Regions from separate parts of the Homo sapiens genome. Here region 1 is linked to region 2. Evidence: fine-mapped expression QTL. A gene starts in region 2. The other region holds a variant in brackets. All regions are shown on one strand. Distances are between the middles of the regions.

Region 1 (2,917 bases), 41 kb after region 2:
ACTAAAGGTGGTCAGTGAGTATTTGCTGTCAAGTGTAATTATGATCTCATGGATTTTAACACATTTGATTTGTTTAAATTCATCAAAGTCATTGTTCTTACTTGTTCTCAAATTTTTCCATACTTTCCAAGTGATAGCCACTTAATTTTGGCTTCTAAATGCTTCGAAACAATCACAGTTTTTAGTAAATTCCTTGGTGTCTGGTATGTCAAATGTGCTAGGCACATGTACTTTTCCTGCCCCAGAACTATGGTCAGCAATTTCTCCAAGGAGGCTTGATTCCTTTAAATATCATTTTCCAATGATTTTTCAAAATTATAGGGCCAGGCCCAGCATTTTGGGAGGCTAAGGCAGGCGGATCACTAGGTCAGGAGTTTGAGACTAGCCTGACCAACATGGTGAAACCCCGTCTTTACTAAAAATACAAAAATTAGCTGGGTGTGGTGGCACATGTCTGTAATCCCAGCTACTTGGGAGGCTGAGGCAGGAGAATCACTTGAACCTGGGAGGCGGAGGTTGTGGTGAGCTGAGATTGTGCCACTGCACCCCCCAGCCTGGGCAACAAGAGTGAAACTCTGTCTCAAAAAAAAAAAAAAAAAAAATTATAAGCTGGCTTTAGGGCTGCCCATTGCTTAAGAATTGGTCATTGTTCCCAGCTTTTTTCAGTGGACAGAATTGAAAACACTACTTTAAAGAAAATGCATCGTGAGTTCATACTAATATTTTGAACTTGAATTTAGTATCACAGCGTTTTTTAAAATTTAGCTCCTTTGATTTTATATTTATCTATCTTCTCTCTTCTACCTAAAATCTTGGTTGCAGACAATATTAACATAATTACTTACTTGCCTTACTATATATATTTTAGAATAATTAATATTGATATCATTGCTAAAAGTGTGATTTCTGAAAACAGTGTAAGATTTCTTTTTGTTTTTGTTTTTGTTTTTTGAGACAAAGTCTCGCTCTGTGGTCAGGCTGGAGTGCAGTGGCACAATCTCAGCTCACTGCAACCTCTGCCTCCCGGGTTCAAGCGATCCTCCTGCCTCAGCCTCCCAAGTAGCTGGGACTATAGGCGTGCACCACCACGGCCAGCTAATTTTTTATATTATTAGTAGAGACGAGGTTTCACCATGTTGGCCAGGATGGTCTCAATCTCTTGACTTCATCATCTGCCTGCCTCAGCCTCCCAAATTGCTGGCATTACAGGCATGAGCCACCACGCTTGGACAACAGTCTAAGATTTTTCTAGGTAAATTTTGGTATCTGACTGTGTACTCTTCTAGGTCTCTTATGCTATTCTGGAATCAAATTGATTACCGGAAAGCTATATCCTGGATGGATCTCATTAACTAACACTGCTATGGAAAGTCTTTACTCAGTTGCCCTTTAATGTTCCGTCCTTTGCTTTCATCAAGGGCGGACATAGAAAAATGCCAATACAGAGAATGTCTCCATATCTTCTACACAATCACTGCAAAGAGATTTCCTCTTATATTGTCAACCTGAATGACAGAGAAATGCTTTCTAAAATAAAATATTTATTTGGGTATAGATCATTGCAATGGGAATATGCCTGCCATAGTAAACTATGCATGGATTCAGGGAGGTAAAGAAAGACAAAGGTTTTTAAAGGAAAAAATGAGGAGGATTACATAATTATTTGGAAATGATTATACTTGACCATAAAGATTAATAACAAGGGTGATCCCAATGCAGTTGAACAGG[C/G]AGTTGCTGGGCAGATATCCTTGTAGAAGTATTTTTTGTGTAAGGTTGCAGTGGCCATTGTGCAAGATTGTGGTTTTTGAGGCTTTTGTGATAGTTTTGTTATTAGGCATACAAGCATGAGAACCTGTCTTCATGGTCTTCCACAGGCCTATTTGTCAGGGTTTGTTTTGATTTTTAACAGTGCCAACTCCATTTTGATTCTGGCAATTTCACAATTGTTAGGTGAATCTAGAATTGGTTTGATTTGATCCAGATACAATGCTTTCGGCAAGAATCCTTCCTAAGTAGCATTTCATATCTAGGAGGAGGCACACAATGACCAGCTGTCTCTCTTTCTGTGAGGTAGCAGCCATGGATGACCCTTGCCTAGACTTACTTCCATAGAGGTTTGTGAAATGATAATATTTTAATTTTATTGCCCTCTCTTCGTTTATTAGCTGGAGGATTTCTAGAAGAGAAACTTTTCCTCATGATCCACAGCCCATGGCAAACATGATTGAAGCCTGGAAAAGCTAAGGAAAGTGATCACCAGTTGCCTTCCCCAATCTTAGGAGAAACTTAGTGACTCCAGGCAGCGTCTGAAATGGAGACCAATGTATTTAGACAGTGCCGTCTGGGGGAATTTATGTAAATATGCCGCAGAGGGATAAGAGCATAAGAGTTAATAGGGCTGGTTTAACATTGCCTACTTGAATATTAGAGTTTGCCCCAAGCAACGATTTTAGTTTTGGCATAAATTCTTCCAATTCTTTTTTAGACTGTTGTAAAACAGAGTCAGTTACCTACGAAGGCCTCTTCTGGTTGGTAGCAGTAAAGCCACCACAAGGGCAAGTGATGAGAGAAGGGCATGGCCACGGTGTCGGGGTAGAGGTGGTGACTAGGACATCGCATAGATTAGGAACAGCCTTCACAGTGGCAACGGTTGTGAGTCAGCATGCCTGATTCAAATCCTGGCTTTGTCACCTGCCAGCTATGTGAACTTGAGCAAGATATTTGACTTCCCTGAGCCTCAGATTCCTCAACTGTAAATGGGGATTGGCGATTTGACTTGCCTTTCAGATTTGTGCACATTAGAGATAACATAAGCCAAACACTTTGCCCAGTGCCTGGCACAGAACAGACGTCAGCTAACTAGAGGTCACAAAGTAACTGTTTAATTAAATAGTTAAGTGAAAATTGAGCCCACCCC
Region 2 (2,917 bases):
TCATGTAGCTAATTCTCAAAGCAGATAAATGCCTGCAGGATAACTGTGAATTGACTCTAATCACAGCAGAGTCCAGCTGCTTCAATAGATGCTGGTGCCTTTGGCTGCTTCCCGGAGCCACCAGCCAACCCAGAGTTGAAGCTGGCTGGAAAAGCAGATATGTTGGAGAGGCCAGCATCATCTCTAAACACAGCATCTGGGAAATACCCATGTCCCCAGAAAGAGGTCATTGAAATCCTTCACTTGGTGGTGCAGTGCAGAGACTCAGGAAAACCAGGCTTTGAGTCCTGACCCTGCCACTTATACCAGCGGTGTGACCTTGGGCAAATTCTCTGGCCCTATGTTATCTTCCTCCTCCATACAATGAGGGTAGAAATAGAGCCACCTTGCAGAAGTATAGTAAGGATTAAGGTCCCAGGAGGCCTAACAGTACCTACTAAGCAGAGGTCCTCAGAGGTACTTAATAAATGGTAGTAGTAGTTATTATCCTGTGCCCTTTGTTCACAGGAGTCTCTTACAGGGGTGTTGGTCTCAGTGCTCCTCCCCATGGCCAGGCTGTATTGGCTCATGCCCAAGGCGTAGCCTTGCCAGGGAGCCTGGTACAGAGATGCTGCTGATTGGGATGCTGATTAAATTCCCTGATTGAGGAGCCTCAGCATTCTGGCCCAGAGCAGGAGGGCCAGCAATATTTAGCACAATCTGCTTGGATCCTCAATTAAATTGTTTTTCCAAACTGCCCTTTTCAAGGTCTTGTCCTCTTTCCTCACCTCTTTCTGGCCCCTTCTCTCTGGGTCCTTGCCAGAGAAGGGAAACAAAGCCTTGTGGGGCTCCATCTGCTTCCCCCTATCCAGAAGAAGGTGACAAGGCTGTCTTCGTTGCAGAAGATGTGGTTAAAACAAGCCTTGGCTATTCAAGGTGGCTGCAGTCTCATCCTGGAGGCTAAAGTCTCTGCGCATTCCAGGTTGATCTCTGTTTTCTTGGCAAAACTGAGTTCTCAACTCAAACCTGCCTCTCCCTTCCATCCTTTATCCCGACAGCTCGCAAGTGCTTTGCTGGGAAGGACGATTAAGTGTCACTTAGTGTATTTTTCCATTTTCCTGTGTTCATCTGGTAAAAAGAAAATAAAACAAAATAAAGGAGGCCCAGGATTGAACTGTCATTATTTTTTAAATGGAGAGAGAAGGGGTCACATGACTGCGAGTAACTGATTTAGCCAAGTGGCTGCAACTCCGAGTTTGCTGCAGAGCCGCCCCCTCCCGGCGGGGGCGCTGACGTCACGGAAAAGCCCCGCGGCGGGTCGGCTGGGCTGGTTATAAACCGCCCGGCCGCGGCGGCTGCAGGCGGCGGGCAAGGACGGCGGGCACAGCGCAGCACTCCCCGCTCGTTGGCCCGGGTATCCCAGCGCGGACCCACGCGATACGCTGACGCCCCGACGCCGATCCGGCCGAGCCAAGTAAGGGGGACGGCCCGAGACGGAGAAGGGAGAGAGTGGGAGTTTCCCAGCCCGCAGAACTTTCGAAGTTGAGAAAAGAACCCCTGGAACGTGCGCTCAGCACTGGGATTTTCTGGTAGGGGTCAGAGCTTCAAGTGCAAAGGATGTCGCTTCTCATCAGCAGGTTCCTTAGTTCAATTCGGTAGAAGGGTCACCTCCCTCTACAGATCGAGTGGTCAGAGAGGGCAGCCCTTAATGATGCTTTATGTATTTGTTGTTTGAATGTAAGTCTGCCAACTGAGGTGCTGCTTTTGAGACTAAAAAACCGGCTGGTCGTCCTGGTTAGTGGCGAGATGTTGGGGTACGGAGTGTGGGGGTGAGGGTGGGAGAGGAGTGTTTGTGCATCTTGCTGATTGCAACGTAAGTACTTATACTTTATCACCAGTAGCCGGAAAAACAGACCTCCCGGCTAGGGGAGGCAGTCTGCAAAGGGAAAGTTGTAGAGAAGTTGTTGAATATCATTTAGGGGAGTCTTCAGCCTTCTGATTTGCTTCAAGAAGGGGATCTGAGAATGGTGGCTCAGGCCTGTGATCTCAGCACTTTCGGAAGCCGAGGCAGGAGGATCACTTGACCCCAGGAGTTCGAGACCAGCCTGGGCAACATAGTGAGGCCACTGTCTCTACCAAAAAATAAAAATAAAAATAAAAAAACTAGTGGACGTGGTAGTGCAGGTCTGTAGTCCCAGCTACTTGGGAGGCTGAAGTGGAGGATCTCTTGAGCCTGGCAGTTGGAGGCTAGCTACAGTGAGCTATGATCGTGCCACTGCACTCCAGCCTGGGTGACAGAGCAAGACCCTGACTCAAAAAAGGAATCTGAGTTGAATTAAAGAACTCTTGAGAATGGATGTGGTTTTTTAAGAATGAGGCACTTTCTCTGCAAATTTCATAGGTCTGAACATGAGCAGGTCATTTCTCTGCCAGGGTGTCTAGGTTTGGAGCCGGGATGTTTTAAAAGTGGTATCTGTGGGTAAGAGGGCACAGCTGAGGCATAAACTTTAAACAGAAAATTTCCCCCCTACCCCCAATAATGGCAGGTGGATGCTCTCCAGGCAGCTGGAGAGCATCAAGGCAACTTTACTAAACATGGAAGTTCCAATAAGTGCCTGTCCAGTCCAGCCAGGGTTGCAGTGGGCAGGGGAGGGGAGGGTGATGTCATTGCCACGTGTTTCCCACTGAGGCACAAAACCTGCTGGACACTGGTGCAATTAAGAGCCAAGTTTAGACAAGAGCAGCTAACCTGACCAGCTGGTCCCCAGCAACATTAACTTGTTGCTTTTCAAGCCATCTTTGGAGTCTGCTGGTTCTTTCCAGCTGCCTTTGTGCCAGCTCTGAGTGCAGCTCTTCTTTCATCCAAGTCTGCTTTGAGGAAGGGGGAAGCCCATGGGCAGTGGGTGATGTTAACCGTATTTGTTTTCCCATGCAAATG

Evidence for each region.
Region 1: its variant is fine-mapped to the expression of GEM in whole blood (TOPMed, PIP above 0.99).

Annotation. Positions count from the first base shown.
Region 1 is chr8:94,219,535-94,222,451 of GRCh38, reverse strand. No RefSeq gene overlaps it. Among named protein-coding and RNA genes, the nearest start is that of CDH17, 12 kb to the right of the region's middle. The variant C/G (reference allele first, on the strand shown) is at 1,729.
Region 2 is chr8:94,260,741-94,263,657 of GRCh38, reverse strand. It overlaps GEM (GTP binding protein overexpressed in skeletal muscle), which reads left to right and starts at 1,339. Exons shown (of 5, transcript NM_005261.4): 1 at 1,339-1,568. RefSeq lists a silencer at 2,028-2,097.